3 linked regions of the Homo sapiens genome follow. The protein of the gene in region 3 interacts with the protein of the main gene of each other region in a pairwise test. Each region holds a gene or a part of one and is shown on either strand. Other genes may lie near its edges.

What was found.
Region 1: the proteins of ZBTB5 (region 3) and SWAP70 interact in binary tests that used the Homo sapiens proteins (3 or more experiments, as listed by UniProt).
Region 2: the proteins of ZBTB5 (region 3) and METTL5 interact in binary tests that used the Homo sapiens proteins (3 or more experiments, as listed by UniProt).

What each region holds. Positions count from the first base shown.
Region 1 is NC_000011.10:9,659,869-9,667,580, forward strand, and holds the start of SWAP70 (switch-associated protein 70), read left to right. Parts: upstream 1-4,208; 5' UTR 4,209-4,311; coding exon 4,312-4,410; intron 4,411-7,712.
Region 2 is NC_000002.12:169,814,402-169,821,981, forward strand, and holds part of METTL5 (rRNA N(6)-adenosine-methyltransferase METTL5), read right to left. Parts: coding exon 7,542-7,580; intron 6,873-7,541; coding exon 6,691-6,872; intron 5,243-6,690; coding exon 5,160-5,242; intron 1,978-5,159; exon of another isoform or gene 1,878-1,977; intron 1,128-1,877; coding exon 1,076-1,127; intron 1-1,075. UniProt on the Homo sapiens protein: Catalytic subunit of a heterodimer with TRMT112, which specifically methylates the 6th position of adenine in position 1832 of 18S rRNA.
Region 3 is NC_000009.12:37,461,951-37,469,422, forward strand, and holds the start of ZBTB5 (zinc finger and BTB domain-containing protein 5), read right to left. Parts: upstream 3,501-7,472; 5' UTR 3,265-3,500; exon of another isoform or gene 1,974-3,264; intron 1-1,973. UniProt on the Homo sapiens protein: May be involved in transcriptional regulation.

The DNA.
Region 1 (7,712 bases), on a different chromosome or scaffold from region 3:
AATTCTTCTGTAGTGAATCCTATCCTGGATCCACATTGGGAACGGACATTTGAGGAACTAGATTTCAACTTACCTAATTGACACAGTACAAACATCAGTGACTGTCAGATACCATGATGCTGATGCTGTGTCTTATACATACTACCCTCTCATTTAAACTTCATACCAGTCTTGCAAAATAGATCTCATCTGGAAAGACCTCATCAAAAAAATAAAAATTAAAAAAAGAGGCCGGGTGCGGTGGCTGACGCCTGTAATCCCAGCACTTTGAGAGGCCGAGGCAGGGTGGATCACGAGGTCAGGAGTTCAAGACCAGCCTGGCCAAGATGCTGAAACCCCATCTCTACTAAATATACAAAAATTAGCTGGGCATGGTGGCACGCGCTTGTAATCCCAGCTATTTCAGAGGCTGAGGCAGGAGAATTGCTTAAACCCAGGTGCCAGAGATTGCAGTGAGCCAAGATCAAGCCACTGCGCTCCAGCCTGGGTGACAGCAAGACTTCGTCTCAAAAAAAAAAAAAAAAAGTTTCCTTTCGGCCGGAACCGCCATCTTCCAGTAATTCGCCAAAATGACGAACACAAAGGGAAAGAGGAGAGGCACCCGATATATGTTCTCTAGGCCTTTTAGAAAACATGGAGTTGTTCCTTTGGCCACATATATGCGAATCTATAAGAAAGCTGATATTGTAGACATCAAGGGAATGGGTACTGCTCAAAAAGGAATGCCCCACAAGTGTTACCATGGCAAAACTGGAAGAGTCTACAATGTTACCCAGCATGCTGTTGGCATTGTTGTAAACAAACAAGTTAAGGGCAAGATTCTTGCCAAGAGAATTAAGGTGCGTATTGAGCACATTAAGCACTCTAAGAGCCGAGATAGCTTCCTGAAACACGTGAAGGAAAATGATCAGAAAAAGAAAGACGCCAAAGAGAAAGGTACCTGGGTTCAACTAAAGCGCCAGCCTGCTCCACCCAGAGAAGCACACTTTGTGAGAACCAACGGGAAGCAGCCTGAGCTGCTGGAACCTATTTCCTATGAATTCATGGCATAATAGGTGTTAAAAAAAAAAATAAAGGACCTCTGGGCTGTAAAAAAAAAAAAAAAAATTAAAAAAAGAAAAAAGAAGTGTTGCAAAATAAATATTAGCATTCTCATTTTACATATGAGGAAATGAAGCCTTATATTTACTCATAGATGAGTCAATGGGGAAGCCCGGATTCTTCCCGACATCTGTGTGGTAGCCATCTTCCAAGATGACCCCCATGATTCTTGCCCATTGGTACTCATATCCTTTTGTAGTTTCCCTCCCAAATCAAATAGATTTGACCTGAGCAATCAGTAGAGCATTGCAGAAATGATGGTGAATGACTTTTGATGGTGGATCGTAAGAGACATTGCAACTTCCATCTTTCTCTTTCTTGAATCAATTGAAAGCCAGCTGACGTGTTGTAAGGATACTCAAGCAGCCTGAGGACAGGCCCATATACAGAGGAACTGAGGCCTTCTGTAAACGACCCATCCATGTGAGTGAACCACCTTGGAAATAGATTTTCCAGCATCAGCCTAGCCTTCAAATGACTACAGCCCTATATTTTACTGCAACCTCCTGAGACACTTCAAGCCAGAACTATAGAGCTAAGTGGCTTCTAAATTCCTGACTTACAGAAAATATGAAATAATGTTTACTATAGTTTTAAGCTGCTAAATTTTGGGTTAATTGGTTACACAGCATTAGATTAATATAATCTGTTAGATTCTGAAGCACAACTCTTTACTTTTCTTTCTTTCTTATTTTCAATTTTTTTGTGGAGACGGGGTTTTGCTACATTGCCCAGGCTGGTCTTGAACTCCTGGCCTCAAGCAATCCTCCCACCCCAGTCTCTCAAAGTGTTGGGATTACAGGCAGGAGCCACTGCACCCAGGAAAAGCACAGCGCTTTCTATGACATCATGCTACTTTAAAATTTGTTTGGATAGGAAGGGCATGGTGGCTCACGCCTGTAATCCCAGCACTTTGGGAGGCCAAGGAGGGCAGCTCACTTGAGGCTGGGAGTTTGAGACCAACCTGGCCAACATGGCGAAACCCCATCTCTACTAAAAATAAAAAAATTAGCCGGGCGTGGTGGCTGGCGCCTGTAATCCCAGCTACTTGGGAGGTTGAGGCAGGAGAATCGCTTGAACCCGGGAGGCGGAGGTTGCAGTGAGCTGAGATCATACCGTTGCACTCCAGCCTGGGCAACAGAGTGAGACTCTGTCTCAAAAAAAAAAGAAAAGAAAAAAAAAGAAAAAAAATGCGTTTGGATTGTATGAATGAGGATGATGGGAGAAGTAGGAATTTGGAAGTCCACAATGTCCTGGTCTTGTCATAAAAAAAAGGCTTTGAAATATGTTTGGTACTTCCAGATACTGAGAGAGAAGAAGGGTCATATAGTGGTTAAACTGAACCTTGAGAATTAGGAGGTTTTCTTCGTTTCTTTTTTCTTCTTCTTCTTTTTTTTTTTTTTTTGCTACTCAGGGTAAGCTGACTTCGCATGAATAAATCAGAGGTTAAACCATGTGGTTTTGCTGACTGGCAGACTTGGGCTGGAAATGGGGAAGATAAATGATAGAAATTGGATTCTGGTAGGGCAAGAAAAGTCCTGACAAATGGTGATGAAATGGGGTAGAACCTTCAGGACAGTCACAGTGAGGGGCTGGCCACCCTTTTGCTCCTGCCCCTTCTTTCGTCAGTGGGGCCATCCTCTCCTCTTCCCCACCAGTTCCTTTTTGATCTCAAACTCACTGAAGAGGCTCCTTCTTGTTCTTCTCTTTCCAAATATCCCTTTCTTATGAAGATCTTTTCCTTTCTTAATAAGGCAAACATGTGCATTAAGGAACTTAAAAAAGCAAAACAAAACCAAACTTCATCTGAGAACCACCTCATTTTAAAAACTCTTGGTGTTTATTGTTCTCTCCAATTAGTCCAGGATTGGAGAGGAGAGGTACTGAGCCTGGCGATTTAATCAGACCTTAGTTAACCGGCAATAGTTATTATCCTAGGATGCTAGTACTGCAAGAACCCTTCCAGAACATCTGGTGCAACCCTGCTCTTTTTATACGGGATAATTTGAAGCCCAAAGAGATCAAGTGACCATTGTGACCACCGCGAACAGATATTAATTCAACAGCTGCAATCGAATACTTTTTTTTTTTTTTTTGAGACGGAGTTTCACTCTTGTTGCCCAGGCTGGAGTGCAATGGCGCGATCTTGGTTCACTGCAACCTCCGCCTACCGGGTTCAAGCGATTCTCCTGCCTCAGCCTCCCGAGTAGCTGAGATTACAGGCATGTGCCACCACGCCCGGCTAATTTTGTATTTTTAGTAGAGACGGGGTTTCTTCATGTTGGTCAGGCTGGTCTCGAACCCCCGACCTCAGGTGATCCGCCCGCCTTGGCCTCCCAAAGGGCTGGGATTACAGGCGTGAGCCACCACGCCTGGCCGAATACGTTCTTTTAAATGGTCCATCTCTTTGGATTAGTAAAATGGGTGGAGTGATTTGGAATTGGCCCAGATCTCCTATTCTGCAAGCAGAGAAACACTACAGAGAGGTATTACCCAGGTCAAACCCCTCCTAAGATGTGAATTGAACAACAGCTAGGCGTTAGGAAGAAAATGCTGCCTGACCCTGACTTCTAAACTCCCCTTAAACGTCGTCGCTGTGTCCCTAGAACCCAAGATAGAGTATGCATGAATAAACTTTTGCGAAATGAACCAACAAACTTCCCTCGAGGTCCTTCCTGCCTCCCCGCCGCCCTGCATCTCCCCGACTTGGGACTGCGCTATCATTTCAGTCCTGGTCTGGGGACTTTTCGGGGTCTTCTCTGGCCTTCTCAGACAGTGACTCCGTTCCCAGGACAGGACCAGGGATCCCTTTTTCACTGCGGGGCGCTGGGAGGAGGCGGGTAGGCTGCTCACCTAATCTCTCGGGTTTTTCCTCAAGACGCGGTCATTTGTGTGAGGTGTTGTACTCGAGCACCCAAAATGGCCCGAACTGGTCTGGGAAACATTAGGGAGATGTGTTTACCGTCCTGGCTGACACTGAAGGCCAAGCATTCTTGCCACCAGGCGTGGCTTGACTCGCAGAACCCACACTCTGGCGGCTGTGGGCGCGGCACTGGACCGGCGCCGGCAGCAGGGCGGGGCCTGGCGGGGGCGGGGCCTGGCGGGTCAGGTGACTGCGCGGCGGGCTGTGGCTGCGGAGGTTGAGGGGCGTCCGAGGCGCGGAGGGGCTGGCTGGGCAGGAGGGGTTGGCGGGGCAGCAGGGCCGCGGCCATGGGGAGCTTGAAGGAGGAGCTGCTCAAAGCCATCTGGCACGCCTTCACCGCACTCGACCAGGACCACAGCGGCAAGGTCTCCAAGTCCCAGCTCAAGGTGGGCGCCTCCTGACCCGGCCCCCCACCCGACCCTCCCCGGCGCGCTCTGTACTTCCCTTGGGTGGAAGCGGGACCTGGCGGGCCGTGACCGCAGGGCGGGGCGGGTCGGAATGCGCCCGGTAGGCCCGCTTGGGGCGGAGTGGGTCTGAGACCGGGATTTGGTGTTTACTGCCTCCCCCTTGCCTTCGGGCCATGCCCTCGGTTGGATGTGTTAGTTCCCGCGGGTCTCCCAGGGACTGGGAAGGGTGGCGGGCATAAGGCTGGGGTGAAGTCTGGAGGGCCAAGTGTGATTCCTTCTTGGCGTTGGAGAGCGGGGGGCAGAAAGTGGATTCTGAGGCGGCAATGGGAAGCTCCCTTACACAGCCTTCCCAGAATTTTCCTCTTACTCCAGGAGAGGAAGGGACTTGCCCAAGGTCGCTGGGCAGAACCTTCTGCAGCCCACAGCCCCACACCAGGACAGTCCTCAAAACGGCTAGCTGCCCCGGAGGCGACAGGGCAGTCCGGAGACGCAGAAATGCCCCGAAGCCCGGCCTCCAGGGTCCTTCTCCTTTGGGAGGCTTTTTGACTTGGGAAGACCTTCCGCCCAGCGTCTTTTAAGTTTGGAACTAGTGGACGGGGTGTACTGTGTCCCACAGGGACCTTAGTTCCGGGTGAGGAGCGCTGATCTTTCTGGCACCCTGCAAAAGCGACTGCTTTTTCAGAGTCGTTATTGTGACTGCCGGAGACCCTAGAGTATAGGGTATAAATAAAGGGATGCTTGTAAATTGAGTAACCCCAAGCAGCGAAATTGGCATTAAGCCAGCAGAAATTGGCAGCTTCTTCAAAGTAAAAAAATATAGAAACAGACAAGAAAAGCTATTCATAGGCATTTAAAAATATACATATTTTAGATCCGAATGTCCGGTTTTCTTAGCCCCTTCTGGGAATAAATTCTGAAGATTGGGTTTGTTTTGTATATTTTTGTACAGTAATCCCGTTCTTCTGAGTAGTGGCTTTTATGCCAGTAGGACTTAACATTCTCCTTGTCTTCCTTTTGCCTCTCCTTTCTTTTTCTCACTGATAGAATCATAGTCTGGAAGGGTCCATGGAGATCATCCACGTAATTTTTATTTTACTTCATTTTTAAATATTAACATACAGTAAAATTGACTTTTGGTGTACAGTTCTATAAATTTCAACATATGTATAGATTTATATAACTATCACCACAACCATGGCTTCCTCAGTTCCATCATCCTAAAAAACTCCCTGATGTTGCCCTGCCTCCACCCCAACTGTCGGCAACCATTGATCTTTCCTAATTGCTATAGTTTTACCTTTTCCGAAGTGCCATGTAAATGGAGTCATATAGTTTGTAACTGTTGAAACTGATTTCTTTTACCCAGCATAATGCCTTAGAGATTAATCCATTTTGTTGTGTGTACCAATAATTTTTTAAATTGCTAAGTAATATTCTATTGCATGGATGTATGGTAGTTTTTAGCCATGCATCTGTGAGAATTTGTGTTATTTCCAGTTCGGGGGAGTTATGAGTAGGTCTACATTTTACTTTTATTTTTACTTTTAACTTACCTATGCCATTTTATTTAAAGTAAGTTTTTAATAAATAGATGTAGCTGGGTCTTTTTTTTTATTCATTCTGACAATCTCTGTCTTTTAATTGGTATATTTAGGCCATTTACATTTAATGTAATTATTGATATGGTTTGATTTAGGGCTACCATTTTATTATAATTTGGTTTCTGCTTTTTTTTTTTCCTCTCTTTTTCTTCCATCTTTGGGATTATTTGAATATGCTTTAGTTTTTTGTTTTTTTTTTTTCTGAGACACAGTCTTGCCCTGTTGCCCAGGCTGGAGTGCGGTGGTGTGATCTCGGCTCACTGCAACGTCTGTCTCCTAGGTTCTAGAGATTCTCGTGCCTCAGCCTCCCAAGTAGCTGGGATTGCAGGTGTGCGTCACCACACCTAGCTAATTTTTGTATTTTTAGTAGAAACGGGGTTTCACCATGTTGGCCAGGCTGGTCTTGAACTCCTGAGCTCAGGTGATCTGCCCTCCTTGGTTTCATGAAGTGCTAGGATTACAAGTGTGACCCACTGTGCCTGGCCAATATTTCATTTTAATAGAGTTTTTTACTATATTTCTTCATGTAGGTTTTTTTAGTACTTGCTCTAGGAGTTAGAATATCCATCCCTAACTTTTCATAGTGTACTTAGAGTTAATATTTTACCACTTTAAGGAGAATGTAGAAAACTTATCACCATATAGGTCCCTTTACTCTCACTGCTTTATGTTGTAATTGTCATATTTATTAATCTACATACATTGAAATCCCCATCAGACAATATTAAATTTTTTGCTTTCAACCATCATTTCTCTTTTAAAGATCTTAAGAGGAGAAGAAAATTTTATTCTTTTTTTCCAGATATTCCCAGATGACCTCTTAATTTTTTTTTTTTTTTTTTGAGCCGGAGTTGCGCTCTGTCACCCAGGCTAGAGTGCAGTGGTGTGATCTCGGCTCACTGCAACCTCTGCCTCCCGGGTTCAAGCGATTCTCCTGCCTCAGCCTTCTGAGTAGCTGGGACTACAGACACGTGCCACCAAGCCTGGCTAATTTTTGTATTTTTAGTAGAGATGGGGTTTCACCATATTGGCCAGGGTGGTCTCAAACTCCTGACCTCGTGATCTGCCCGCCTTGGCCCTGCAAAGTGCTGGGACTACAGGTGCCCGCTGCCATGCCTGACTAATTTTTTTGTGTGTATGTTTTAGTAGAGACGGGGTTTCATTGTATTGCCCAGGCTGGTCTCGAACTCCTGAGCTCAGGCAATTTAACCAACTTGGCCTCCAGAAGTGCTAGGATTACAGGTGTGAGCAACTGCAATGATATGTTTAGTGATTTGTCCAAAGTCACAGTTGTAAGTAGTAGCTAATCTAGAACCAAGATTTTCACACTTCTGTGTGTGTGTGTGTGTGAGAGAGAGAGAGAGAGAGAGAGACAGGGTCTTGCTGTGTCACCCAGGCTGGAGTGCAGTTGCACTATCTTGGCTCACTGCAACCTCCACTTCCTGGCTCAAGCGATCCTCCAGCCTCCACCTCCCAAGTAGCTAGGCTCACAGGCATGAGCCACCATGCTCAGTTCATTTTTGTATTTTTTTGTAGACATAGGGTTTTGTCATGTTGTCCAGGCTGGTGTTGAACTCCTGAGCTCAAAGACATCCGCCCGCCTTGGCCTTCTAAAGTGCTGGTATTCAGATATGAGCCACCTTGTCCAGACAACTCTTTATAATTCTTTTTCTCTTTTTT
Region 2 (7,580 bases), on a different chromosome or scaffold from region 3:
GCTTGAACCCGGGAGGTGGAGGTTGCCACTGCACTCCAGCCTGGGTAACAGAGCAAGGCTTTGTCTCAAAAAAAAAAAAAGAAAAAAGAAAATGAAATTAGATTATCTAGGAATAATGTGGTGGCATTTTCTATGAATGAATTTCAAACCAAGATCTGACCAACTCCAAGCCCACTTTTTTTTTTTTTTTTGAGATGGAATCTCACTCTGTTGCTTAGGCTAGAGAGCAGTGGCGCGATCTCAGCTCACTGCAAGCTCCGCCTCCCAGGTTCACACCATTCTTCTGCCTCAGCCTCCTGAATAGCTGGGACTACAGGTGCCTGCCACCACACCTGGCTAATTTTTTTGTATTTTTAGTAGAGACGGGGTTTCACCATGTTAGCCAGGATAGTCTCAATTTCCTGACCTCGTGATCCGCCTGCCTCAGCCTCCCAAAGTGCTGGGATTACAGGCGTGAGCTACCGCGCCCGGCCCACTTTTTTTTTTCATTTGTTTGTTTTTGTTTTTTTGAGACTGAGTCTCCTCTGTCATCCAGGCTGAAGAACAGTGGTGCGATCTCGGCTCACTGCAACCTCTGCCTCTGGGACTCAAGCGATTCTCCCGCCTCAGTCTCCCAAGTAGCTGAGATTACACGTGTGCGCCACCATGCCTGGCTAATTTTTTATATTTTTAGTAGAGATGGGGTTTCACCATGTTGGCCAGGCTGGTCTTGAGCTCCAAACCTCAGGTGATCTGCCCACCTTGGCCTCCCAAAGTGCTAGGATTACAGGCGTGAGCCACCACACCTGGCCCCCAGCCCATGTTTTTAGCCATTGTGCTGCTATACAGTGTTCTGCCTGAGTCTGGAGTGACCAAATACCTGAGTGCTATTAGAAATTTTCAGTAAATCGCATAAATTAGGACAGTCTCAGGCTAAGTGTTCATTCTGCTTTTACTCCATTTCCAATCTATTACCAATCATGCACATTTTGCCACACTGTAAAGCATAGTTTATCTTCTCAGCACCTGCATGAAAATTTTGGTTGGGCGAATACATGTTGGCCCTTTTGGATATTAGGATTGAGATTTGTCTTACCTGCTATAATATCTATCTTGATTTTCCATTCTGCAGCTTTCTTTTGAACATGCTGAACATAAATAATATGTTGTTATGAGCTGATTTTTAAATAATGATTTTTTAAAATTGCTTTTTACTAATACTTGAGATTGAGTTTTTAAGCTTAAAATTTCATTAGAATCTAGACCCTTATAAAAATTTCAATTGAATGGATAGTATTCTGAAAATAATAAATCAATTTCAATACATTTAACAATCTGAACCAAATCACACAATAAATCCAAGTGATAGAAAGCTACTCATGCACCACATAATGCCATTTGGGGTTATCTAGGGACTGCATATATTTTGGTAGTCCCATAAAATTATAAATGGAGCTGAAAAATTGCTATTGCCTAATGATGTAGCTATCTTGACATCACAGCACAACACATTACCTTCTTGGTGTTTATATATGTTTAGATCAAAAGAATACCATTGTGTTACAATTGCCTGTAGTATTCAATACAGTAATAGGTTGACAGGTTTGTAGCCTAGGAACAACAGACTATAACCACAGAGCCTCGGTGGTCCACTCTATGTTTGCACAATGATGAAATCACCTCAGAATGCATTAGTCAGAACATATCCCTGTTGTTAAAGGATGCATGACTATTTCAGAAATCTATCAAAGATGTGTAATGTTCTCATATGGTTTCTGTAGCATTATTTCATTGATATATACAGCTAGCTAGCCTAGAAACCATTTGGCAGAGATATAGGTACATGGGGAATTCAGTTCATGCAGTAAAACTGAGTTTTATAAAATTCATGTTATGCCAAGACTATACTTTCAGGGATCATTTCTATAGTTCGTTACTAGAGAAGTTTCTCCGAAAGTGTAGAGCACTGTATCATGAAAATGGCCATACTACCCAAGGTAATTTATAGATTCAATGCTATCACCATCAAGCGACCACTGACTTTCTTCACAGAATTGGAAAAAACTACTTTAAATTTCATATGGAACCAAAAGAGCCCACATAGCCAAGACAATCCTAAGCAAAAAGAACAAAGCTGGAAGCACCATGCTACCTGACTTCAAACTATACTACAAAGCTACAGTAACCAAAATAGCATGGTACTGGTACCAAAACAGATATATAGACCAATGGAACAGAACAGAGGCCTCAGAAATAACACCACACATCTACAACCATCTGATCTTTGACAAACCTGACAAAAACAAGCAATGGGAAAAGGATTCCCTATTTAATAAATGGTGCTGGGAAAACTGGCTAGCCATATGCAGAAAACTGAAACTGGATCCGTTCCTTACACCTTACATGAAAATTAACTCAAGATGGATTAAAAATCTAAATGTAAGACCTAAAAACTCTAGAAGAAAACCTAGGCAATACCATTCAGGACATAGGCATGGGCAAAGATTTCATGACCAAAACACCAAAAGCAATGGCAACAAAGCCAAAATTGATAAATGGGATCTAATTAAACTAAAGAGCTTCTGCACAGCAAAAGAAACTATCATGAAAGTGAACAGGCAGCCTACAGAATGGGAGAACATTTTTGCAATCTATCCATCTGACAAAGGGCTAATATCCAGAATCTATAAACAACTGAAACAAATTTACAAGAAAAAAAAACCCATCAAAAAAGTGGGCAAAAGATATGAACAGACACTTCCCAAAAGAAGACATTTATGCAGCCAACAGACATATGAAAAAATGCTCATCATCAGTGGTCATCAGAGAAATGCAAATCAAAACCACAATGAGATACCATCTCATACCAGTTAGAATGGCAATCATTAAAAAGTCAGGAAACAACAGATGCTGGAGAGGATGTGGAGAAATAGGAATGCTTTTACACTGTTAGGAGTGTAAATTAGTTCAACCATTGTGGAAGACAGTGTGGAGATTCTTCAACGATCTAGAACTAGAAATACCATTTGACCCAGCCATCCCATGACTGGGTATATACCCAAAGGGTTATAAATCATGCTGCTATAAAGACACATGCACATGTATGTTTACTGCGGCACTATTCACAATAGCAAAGACTTGGAACCAACTCAAATGTCCATCGATAATAGACTGGATAAAGAAAATGTGGCACATATACACCATGGAATACTATGCAGCCATAAAAAAGGATGAGTTCATGGGATGAAGCTGGAAACCATCATTCTCAGCAAACTATCACAAGGACAGAAAACCAAACACCGCATGTTCTCACTCATAAGTGGGAGTTGAACAACGAGAACACATGGACACAGGGAGGGGAACATAACACACGGGGGCCTGTTGGGGGGTGGGGGGCTGGCGGAGAGATAGCATTAGGAGAAATACCTAATGTAAATGACAAGTTGATGGGTGCAGCAAACCAACATGGCACATGTCTACGTATGTAACCTGCATGTTGTGCACATGTACCCTAGAACTTAAAGTATAATTAAAAAAAAAATTCATGTTATGCCAAGCTGTGCAGAAAAGAGTTCACAGCAGGCCTGGCTGCTTATCCTTAGAAAGGCCTGCTTAGTTTGGCCCTTGTCTGGAGACTGGGAACTTAGATTTTGGGAAGCCTCCCACTCCCTACTCCCTTAATAATAGTGACTGACTGTGCCTAACACTGTTTATGCTGAACACCTGTTTTCCTACTGGGAGTCTAGAATTTGGGTATGTGTCAGAAAGGGAATTGCCTACATGATCAGTCCCTAATAAAAGCCCTGGGCACTGAGTCTCTAATGAGCTTCCCTGGTTGGCAATGTTTCACATGTGTTATCAATAATTCATGCTGGGAAAATTAATTGTGTCCTGTGTTATTCTACTGGCAGAAGACTCCAGAAGCCTGGCCCTGGTTTACCCCATTCTCTGCCTAATGCACCTTTCTCCTTGCTGATTTTGCTCTATATCCTTTCACTGTAATACATCATAGCCATGAATAAGACTAGATGCTGAGTCCTGTGAGATTTCCTAGTGAATCATCAAACCTGAGGGTGTTCTTGGGGACACAGGTTTGGATACCAATGTTTACTGGTGTTTGCTTTCATATATAGTGAGTGAGGATTTATTTACTAGCTATGTTGTGTCCTGTTGCTTGCCTACATGTACCACTACTTATTATTAGCAGTATAGTTCTTTTTAGCTGTTATATTTTATGCTTTTTAAAAGGTTATCACATTACCATGTAACTAGAATGTATTATTTCCAACTGGGTTCTTACGTACTGTATTTACATGAATTAAGTATTTTTCCTACAAAAGCACTTTAAAATCTTTGAATACATGTATGATTTAAATAATAATAGCTAACACATAGCAATTACACATGTCAGACACTGATCTAAGTGCTTTGTAAATATTAACTCATGTAATCCTCACAATTCTTATGAAGTACAATTGGTACTCTCAGTCCCTTACACTTAGAGTACAGGTGAGGATAGTATAGATGACAAAAGCTCAATTACCTTGATGATGAAACTCAATTACCTTGACCAAGAAAACAGCTGGGAGGCAGCAGAACTTGGATCTGAACCCAGAGAATCTGGTCTGGCTTCAGAATCTCTGTTCCTAACTATTGTGTTATACTGACACTAAAAAAATGTACTGCCCCTTCCCCCAGTTTCCTGGACTACAACTTATACACCTCTCCATGTGTTATATGCTGCAAAAGTAAGAATAGGTGATTTCTGAACTCAGATCTGTTTAGCTCCAGGCTCAAGTGTTCTGAAAACCTGGCCTTACTGCCTCCCTTAAGTACATCAGGCCACACCGGGACAATGGGACAAAAGGGATCAACTAAGACTTACTCAGAGAAACCAAAACATACAGTAATCCTAGTTACAACACACTTTTCTACTCCTGAGTTATAGTCTCTCCTCTGGCAACAGTTCCTGTCTGAAAAAAATCTTTGAGGAAATAAGTCTTATAGCCTGGAAAAAGGCCAATCAGATGCTAGCTGGTTAAGTGGAAAATTTAAGTTTCACATGTCAAAATGGTCAGGAGAAATAGATACTGTGGTATCTAGTATTCACAGCAAATCCTAAAAACACTGTCATGAATTTAAAAATCAATGCCACAGAATATCAGATGATTTGAACTTACTTCTCTAGTTGAGGATTTGTGTAAGGAATATACTGCTGTTCTTGCCATTTCCAAAGCAGTCTTTAGAAAAGCCATATCTGTCCCTGTGAAGAGTAGAAAAAAAGCTCCTATTTACCTCTTCTCAAAACAGAAGATTAAGTTAGTAGGATTTAGAAATATTTTCTTCCAAACTTCAAAATAGCCACCTTGAAATCTTTTAGCAATAAGGGTACAAATAAACTATCAAAATATTATTTTAAGGCTGGTAGAATAAAACCAGAATTATACTGTCTTGGTTAAATAAGGATAAAGTAAAAATTTTAATATTATATTCCAACATTAATGACTTCAAAAAGGGGAGAAGGAAATGCATAGAGTACTATTCAGAATCATCTTGGTGGGGGCAGGGTACTTTTTAAACTATGCATGTCTTTTTTTTTTTTGTTTCGCTCTTGTTGCCCAGGCTGGAGTGCAATAGCATGATCTCAGCTCACCGCAACCTCCGCCTCCCGGATTCAAGTGATTCTCCTGCCTCAGCCTCCCTAGTGGCTGGGATTACAGGCATGTGCCACCATGCCTGGCTCATTTTGTATTTTTAGTAGAGACGGGGTTTCTCCATGTTGGTCAGGCTGGTCTCAAACTCCCGACCTCAGGTAATCCACCCACCTCAGCCTCCAAAGTGCTGGGATTATAGGCGTGAGCCACCACGCCCGGCCAAACTATGCATGTCTTTTCCTACCCTCACTGACTTCCTAACCTCCTTGCCCACAGTACACACAAAATTAACAGCCACGGTGAGTCACTGTTACTGATGGGCACATGTAGAAACCCTTGGGTCTGTTAAGACATTAAAAAACAGATTCTGAAAGTATAAAATTCTTTCTATGTTTCGTATTCATTCATAAGGGTTAGGCAAATTATTCCTGAAAGCAAATGGGAGATATACAATAAATGACATGACTATCTTTGTTTACTTAATACAAATTTGTAAAAATGAAAGTTGAAAAACTCAGTTTCTTAGCCATGCATTAAACAAATTGAAATGTAAATTATAAGAACTATACAAATAAGAGATTGGTTTACTTAATGAAGAGTAATAACATCACTTAGCCTTGGTTTATTTAATGAAGAGTGATAAAATCACTTAGCCCAAACAGTGATAAAAATGGTTTTTATTTTTGTTTAATTTTTTCTAGACAGGGTCTTGCTGTTACCAAGGCTGGAGTGCAGTGGCACATTCATGGCTCATCGCAGCCCCGAATACCTGAGCTCAGGTGATCCTCCCACCTCAACCTTCTGAGTAGCTAGGACTATAGGTGCACCACCACACTTGGGAAATTAAAATTTGTGTGTGTGTGTGTGTGTGTGTGGGTAGAGGCAGGGTCTAACTATGTTGCCCGGGATGGCTACCAATTCCTGGCCCCAAATGATCCTCCTGTATCAGCCTCGCAAAGCACTGGCATTACACGCCTGAGCCACTGCGCCTGGCCTTAAAAATGGTTTTAAAATCTTTTCTATAAATATACCAATATACCCGATTCTTGTTACAAACCTTTATTATTTTTGGTCCCAAAGGGAGGATTCATAATTACTGTATCGAATGACTTGGACATTCTGTTAGATAATAAGCACACATCACATTGAACCATGTCAATATTTGTTAACTCAAACTCTTCTGCATTCCTATTAAATATTTCCAATGCGTCTTCATCTATGTCAAATCCAACACACAACCTATAAATACAAAACACATACAAAGAGTGGCGACTTATAGCTCCCAAGTAAAAACAAAACCAAAATTAGCTGTTTTTTTTTTAAACCATATATCTTTTTAACCCAATTAGCAAAGTAAGAGTGAGTGTTTTCTTCTTTTTTTTTTTCTTTTTTCAGACAGGATCTTGCTGTGCCACCCAGGTGAGTGTAGTGGTGCCATCTTGCACTGCTCAAGCAATCCTCCCACCTCAGCCTCCCAAGTAGCTGGGACCACAGGCGCACACCACCACATCCAGCTAATTTTTGTATTTTTTGTAGACATGGGATTTCACCATGTTGCCCAGGCTGGTCTCAAACTCCTGGGCTCAAGTAATCTGTCCACCTTGGCCTCCCAAAGTGTTGGGATTACAGGCATGAGCCACTGTGCCCAGTCAAGTGTAACAGCATAATTTCCAAACCCGGCAGGGGTTGGAAACTCAGGTTTGTATAAAAGGAACTGCTGCTTTCACCATTTTTATTTAATTTTTGTAGTTTGTTTAGATCTTCTGCCCATTCAAAATGTATTCAGTATCAGATTTTTGCTCCCTATATCTCATTCTGTGGAGTCTCATAAATATAATTCAGTTAATCCCATTGATGCTCCTTATTAAAGCCACCCAATACCCAAATAGCATATATTGCATTACGTACCCTGCTCCTAACATTGCAGTTCCGATGCTAAGTACTCCA
Region 3 (7,472 bases):
ACGAATTAGGAAAATTTATTGGTTACAATTACAAGGAATTAGTTGGGTACAAAAGTCTCTTTATGGGGGATAGGCAGCCAGGATTTTACTATGTTGCCTGGGCTGGTTTGAACTCAAGTGATCCTCCTGCCTCAGACTCCCAAGTAGTTGGGACTACAGGTGTGTGCCACCTGAGCTAAAATTCTATTAATTTTACCAAATTTCATTAAATCTAAGATGTCTGTGATTATAAAATGCATTATTTCATGTAACACTAGGAAAAAAACTGCCAATTAAGCTATGGCATAATGCTTACTTATGGTATCCTGTCTTCAAGGAAGGAAAACTGTCTGCCAATGACTACTATGATAGAGGCAGGAGACAGACAAATGCCTAGGCAGACAGGGGCACATCCCCAGTGAAACCCCACCTCCAAGCCGAAGACAGTTTAAAAGCTTGAAAGCCAAGCTACAAGTCAAATCCACGGACCAGATTGAGAACCTGTGTTCCCATTTGGCATGCTTTCCTCTGACTGATCCCCACCCTTCACCTATTTTACATATATCTACCCCTTTCCTAATTGGTTTTCTACACTGTCGTGCCCACCTTTGAGTGGTGTCTTTGCTTTAACCGTTTTTTTTTTTTTTTTGAGACAGGGTCTCACTCTGTCTCCAAGACTCCAAGTGTGCAGTGGCATGCTCTCAGCTCAATGCAACTTCTGCCTCCCAGGCTCAAGCGATTCTTCCGCCTCGGCCTCCTGAGTAGCTGGGATTACAGGCGCACGTCACCATGCCGGGTTAATTTTTGTATTTTTAGTAGAGACAGGGTTTCACCATGTTGGCCAGATTGGTCTTGAACTCCTGAGCTCAGGCAATCTGCCCGCCTCAGCCTCCCCAATTGCAGTAATTACAGGCGTGAGCCACCACACCCGGCCTTCCCTTTAAACTTTTTGCATCAGAAACCAATCAGCACACACTCCCCATTCTGAGTCCCTAAGAAGCCCCGGAACCAGCCACACTGGGAAAGAGACCACCCCCTGCATGCCCTCTTCTCTGAGAGCTGTTCCATCACTCAATAAAATTCTTCTCTGCCCTCCTCACCCTTCGAATTGTCAGAGTAACCTAATCTGTTTGGGATGTCAAGATAAATCAAAGCTTTTAGGAAATACATGTATAACTAATAAAATGAAAGGCACCTCTAAAACTGGATCTTGAAATTAAAAGCTACTATTCAGTGGTGAAAATGATGAGAACATATGCAAAGAGCAATAGTTCACTCAGAAACAGCTGGTCTTTTAGGAGATGAGAAGTTCACTTCATACTTAGACAAAAGGCATAGTGTAGTGCTACATTCCATCCCACCTGCTACACTAACAAAACTGGCTCTACTAGACAACATCCATATTTGAGAAATATTACGTACAGTAAAAGAAAAATCACACGCTTAAAACTGACAGAGGGGGAAAGTATTTAAAATTAATTTACATTAAAAAAAAAGTTGAAAGCTAACATAGAATCAATACCTTGGGTTCTTTTTTCCATTTCCAAAACGAATGTGAGCCAGATTCAAGATTCTCTGTCAGCACTACACCAGGTTTTGTCAATTTCACTGAACACAAGATATTTTAAAGTCTCCAATTCGATATAATTCATGCTGAGTTCTTTAAGTACTATTTGATATCCCAGTGATTTTTTATTACTTCCACTTTGGGGACAGTCTTGTGAGTCTCTTTTGAGAGCGTTCGCTCCTAAGTCTGTAAGATGCCTTTCCTCCAAATCTTACCATTTTCAGAATTCTGCTAGAGACATATCAATTAACCAAAATCCAGCTTGCCAGCATCCTCAGCTAACTAAAAGTTATGTTTTGACACAACTTTTAGGGAAAAGGGGCAAATCTCTAGTAAACGAGTTGACTTCAGGACTCTTCAAAAAAAGAGTCTGTTTATTCAGCAAAACCCAAGGGCCCAAAACAGGTCCCCACCCAAGTAGTCTTACCTGTAAGGTCACCAAGCTGGCTGTGGTGGCCAGGTCAATCTTCCCAAATTTGATGAGATTTCCATAAGGGTTAAAAGGAAGAGTGAACGGTTTCCTTTGGCTTAGGGGCTTTTCTCTAAAATTCCTTGTCTTCTTCCCATCTGGACTTTTCCCTCTGAACTATTAGCTTACTGCCAACCACCGTCCCCACAGAAATCACAAGAGTTTAGGCAAATGAAAAGCAAGTTCTGCCCAGCCTTTTACATCTAAGCACAACAGCCCATACTAGGACAACAAATTACCAATGACTTAATGACTAAGGCACAGCATTCTCTTCAACCTCTAAAGAAAAGCCCGTAATGTCCTCTACTTAATACAAGTGAAAAATATGAGAACATGTTTTGGAATATTTTTGCTTCAATTTTTGAAGGTGAAGAGTTCCTTCTATTAATTCAAGTTAACTAGAGTCAGAAGATACTACTTAGTAATCAACTTTACTGTGCTTTCACCTAAAATTTTTCCTCCAAATTATTTAGGATTTGCCTTCTGTTCAGAAAATTAGTTTCCACAATATCCTTCACTATGCCAGAATGCTGACTGACTTAAAAAAAAATGACCATTATGAAAGGAAAAAACTAACCTTCAACACCCCTTAATTCACTGCCTTTTATTATTTACATACAAATCTGTCCTCCAAACAGGAGAAGATGGGACGGCAGTGTCTTACCACCGCATCCCCCACAGCTCCTCGCACGAAGCCTGGGAGTAGTGGGCATTCAATAAATGCCTATTAAACACTTCAGTCCTCTCATAACAAGTTGGGGCATTCCGAAACACTGGCTCCACCCCTCCAGGGTCGGCCGCTGGCTCCCGATGGCAGTCTGCCTATGGCCTTGCTCTGGTGAAATGAAACCTCGTCGCTCAAGACCCAGGATGGGGGCAAGGGAGCCGTCCGACCACATCCCGCAGGGCAGCAGATCCTCTCTTCATCCCGCCAGGCCGCTGGTCCTGAGGCCTTTCCCACCCCATTCGGGAACCTACGTCGCCAGCCGGGGATCCACAGGAGTACCAGCCCCCGCCCCACCCCGCAGACAGCCTGGCGTCGGGACACCGGGGACGCCTGCGCAGAAGAACCCGCCTGGCCCCTTGGCTCCAACGGTAACAATGCTCCCCTCCGAAAGACAGCCAGAGTAGTCCGGGGGCACCAGTACACGTCTGCGCGCTCCCCGACGCCTTGGCGCGCCCCTGGTGCTCAACCTTCCCCACGTGAGCGCGCCCGCCATCACGATACTCGCTGACGGGGTCTCCTCACCTGAGTCGGGCTCCGCCCCCCTCCTCCTCGCTGAAGGAGGCGGTGACCCCTCTCCGATCGGACTCGGCAGTGTCAGAGGAGGTGGGAACGTCCTGACCAGCGTCTCCGTTACGGGACTTCCTCCCCCTTCCACCCGCCCCCCTCCCACCCCGCCTCTAGTCCCCTAGCTCCTCCAGCCAGTTCGCCGCAGCACTCTGAGAACACGGCGGCGGCGCCCGAGGATAAGCGGAAGTGACGTAATGCAAGAGCGCCTACTCCGCCCCATTCCGCCTCTCCCAGTTGGGCTGCAACCAATCAGCAATGGGAAGGGCGGGGCCGGGGTAGGAGTGCAGCCAGCCGGCGCGCGGAACCTGGAGGAATTTACTTAGCCCCCGGAAAAACTGACCAATCCACGGTCCCTGAAGTCTGGTTGTGTTTACTACCGACTGAATCCGTGAGCTCTCTGACCAATCACCCTTTGCCTTACAACATGTAAAACGGTTATCAAATGCCTTTTAGGGCGGGATTTATCACTAAACTGCTCCAGGTTTGGACTATAGAAATGCGGCTGTTCGCTGCAACCAATCAAAACCCTCTGTGGTTTAGGCTAGCGGGCTTTCCGCCTAAATCCGCCAATCACAACAACGACTGCGTGATGTCTGAGGGCGCCGGAGAGGCGGGCCCTCAGGGCAGGCCGTACCGCCATTGGCTGGTTCTGAAGGATTTTTCCACCCTCGTGGTGCCCGGCGCTTTAGTGACCCAGGGCTCTTCTCCGGGGTGAATTCCCTTCGCTGAACACACACACACACACACACGTAGAGGGCTGGAGATTGAGTTCCCACTTCATAGACGTTGGGAAAGATAAGATTCCAAAAAGCTCTTTAGGTTTAACTAAGCCAAAGTCCAGGGTGAAAACCGCGAATAAAAAACGCTGTCCATCGGATGGCAGTTAGGTCGGACCCCGCCCCTCGTCCAGTCCGGGTGGCTGCGCGTCTGGAAACGGTGGCGCCCCAGGAGCCCGGCGCTTGGCCCCGCACTCGGCTGCAGGTCAAATAAGCCTGTAGTCTGCATGCCCAGATTTATAATCACCTGCACTCCCCCCACAAAAAAATAGGAAGCGCTAAGCTCTCCCACTCCTGTCCCAAACGTGGAAGGGTCGCGGACTTGTATGGGACGCGGTCTGAAAAAAGCGAGCCCCGGGGCGACGCTCGGGTTTCCAGGTGCACCCTCGGAGGGAGAACCCGATCCCTGAGCATCGGACACTGGGGCCAGGGAAGAAACCCCCTTTCCTAGGGTGAGGACGGCAGAAGAAAGCTGCCTTCTCCGGCGCAGCGTGTCTGGGAGCGCTGCGTGGCTCTGGAGACAAAGGCAGGCCCGCGAACTCAGCTGGGTTCTTCTGGGGGTGGGGGTAAGGGTCTTGGAGGAGCTCCCAGAAAAATGGAACTCCCAGCCGGGCGCGATGGCTCACGCCTATAATCGCAGCAATTGGGAAGGCTGAGGCGGGCAGATCGCCCGAGATCAGGAGTTCGAGACCAGCCTGGCCAACATGGTGAAACCCTGTCTCTACTAAAAGTACAAAAATTAGCCGGGCGTGGTGGTGGGCGCCCGTAATCCCAGGCAACTACTCGGGAGGCTGAGGCAGGAGAATCGCTTGAACCCGGGAGGCGGAGGTTGCAGTGAGCTGAGATCGTGCCGCTGCACTCCAGCCTAGGCAACAGAGTGAGATTTCGTCTGGGGGGAAAAAAAAGGAACTCCCCGCTTTAAGAATGGAACACACCGAATACCCCTACAGCAGATTCCATCCCTTCAGTTACTGGTCGGAAGTGTTGATTTCAAAAAGCAACCTGTTTGCGTGGATTTCTTTAAGGGCTCGGTGGAGTCTGATGTTTAATTCTTTTCCTTAAGATTCGCTGACACTATAGCCATCACACATATTTTACTGACAGATTGATCGGTAAAATAAGGAAAATATGGAATGATGACAGTAAGCCAGGCAATAGGAGAGATTCTTTTGCGTATCTGTCTCTCAACGGTAAATGCCATGACCTAGATTGCCTCAGATTTACAGGCTGGCAAAAGTTTTAAAAATTGTATATTCAGAATTTAGGAGTGTGTGGAAGTGGACACCCGCTATATTGTGGACGGGGGTGTCACTGATGCCCTGTTTGACGATCACTTCGTAGTATCTATCAAAATTTAAAATATGCATTTGTTCCCTTCTAGATGGTAATTCCTTTCTAGAAATATATGCTACCGAAATACAAAGATGTGGAATAATAAACCCAAGGCTGTTTACCACACCTTTGTAAGTACAAGGGGCGGGGGGGGGGGGGTAAGTGGACAACAAACCTAAATGTGTAACTAAAGAAGATTACAAAAATTTGATAAATATGTATCATGGCTCCTTCATGACTAAGGCTCCTATAGATACAAAACGAAAGTAATAAAACCCTGCGGCCAGGCGCGGTGGCTCACGCCTGTAATCCCAACACTTTCGGAGGCCGAGGAGAGTGGATCACGAGGTCAGGAGTTCGAGGCCAGCCTGACCAATATGGCGAAACCCCATCTATATTAAAAAAGTACAAAAATTAGCCGGGCTTGGTGGCTCATGCCTGTAATCCCAGCTTCTCAGGAGGCTGAGGCAGGAGAATCGCTTGAACCCGGGAGGCGGAGGTTGCAGTGAGCCGAGATTGCGCCACTTCACTCCAGCCTGGGTGACAGAGAGAGACTCCGTTTCAAAAAAAAAAAAAAAAAAAAAAAAAGAGCGGGTCTCCTTAATTTTTATTTAACAGACAGGTGTTGTTACTTTAATAGTATTTAGGAAAACCTGGAATTTCAGGTTGCTTAGATTTTCTAATCACTGACAAAATTATTCCTAAAGTAACCTATACATTTCTCGAAAAATGTATCAATAAGATACTTTCTGAAATTAGACAAATAAGTTCTAAGATTCATAAGGGGAGATAATATTGAAAGAATAGGCAAGACAGTCATGGAAAAAATAAGTTGGGTATCTACCTGTGAGGCAGGATAACAAGGTCTGGAGGCGGGGACCCTCAGGCCGACTCCTGCTGACTGGATATCAGAAGCCACTCTCTTTTCACCCACGCCTTTTTCTGCGTGGCAGTTGCTCCGTGGCAGTTGCAAGCCCTCCTTTTTCTGTCTGGCAGTTGAAAAATGAAAATACCGGCCGGGCGTAGTGGCTCACGCCTGTGATCCTAGCACTTTGGGAGGCCGAAGCGGACGGATCCCTCAGATCAGGAGTTCGAGACCAGCCTGGCCAACATGGCGAAACCCCGTCTCTACTAAAAGGACAAAAATTAGCCGGGCGAGGTGGTGGGCGCCTGTAATCCCAGCTACTCAGGAGGCTGAGGCAGGAGAATAGCTTCAACCTGGGAGGCGGAGGTTGCAGTGAGCCGAGATCGCACGCCACTGCACTCCAGCCTGGGCGACAAGAGCGAGACTTGGTCTCAAAAAAAAAAAAGAAAGAAAGGCAAGGCAGGGCAGGGGAAGGCAAGGCAGGGCAGGGCAGGGCAGGGCAAGGCGCAGGGCAAGGCAGGGCAAGGCAGGGCAAGGCAGGGCAGGGCAAGGCAAGGCAAGGCAAGGCAAGGCCTCTGATAGCTCCTCTCCTGAAAAAATCAGACTGATCATGGGCCCACTCTTCATGCTGACTGGTCCCTTCCTGCAACCAATCAAACTGGTTACTGGCCTACTCTTCATTCTGACTGGTCCCCTCCCGCAACCAATCAGACTGATGGTGGGCCAATGGGAAACCTCTGGAGGTATTTAAACTCCAAAAAATTCTGTATCCCACGCTTTTCAGGCTTGTTCAACCCTGCTCCCACCCTGTGGCGCGTACTTTTGTTTAAAATAAATTTCTGCGGCTGGGCGCTGTGGCTCACGCCTGTAATCCCAGCACTTTGGGAGGCCGAGGCGGGCAGATCACGAGGTAAGGAGATCGAGACCATCCTGGCTAACACGGTGAAACCCCGTCTCTACTAAAAATACAAAAAAATTAGCCAGGCATGGTGTCGGGCGCCTGTAGTCCCACCTACTTGGGAAGCTGAGGCAGGAGAATGGCGTGAACCCAGAAAGCGGAGCTTGCAGTGAGCCGAGATCGAGCCACTGCACTCCAGCCTGGGTGACAGTGCGAGACTCTGTCTCAAAACAAAACAAAACAAAAATTAGCCAGGCATGGTGGCACACACCTGTGATCCCAGCTACTCGGG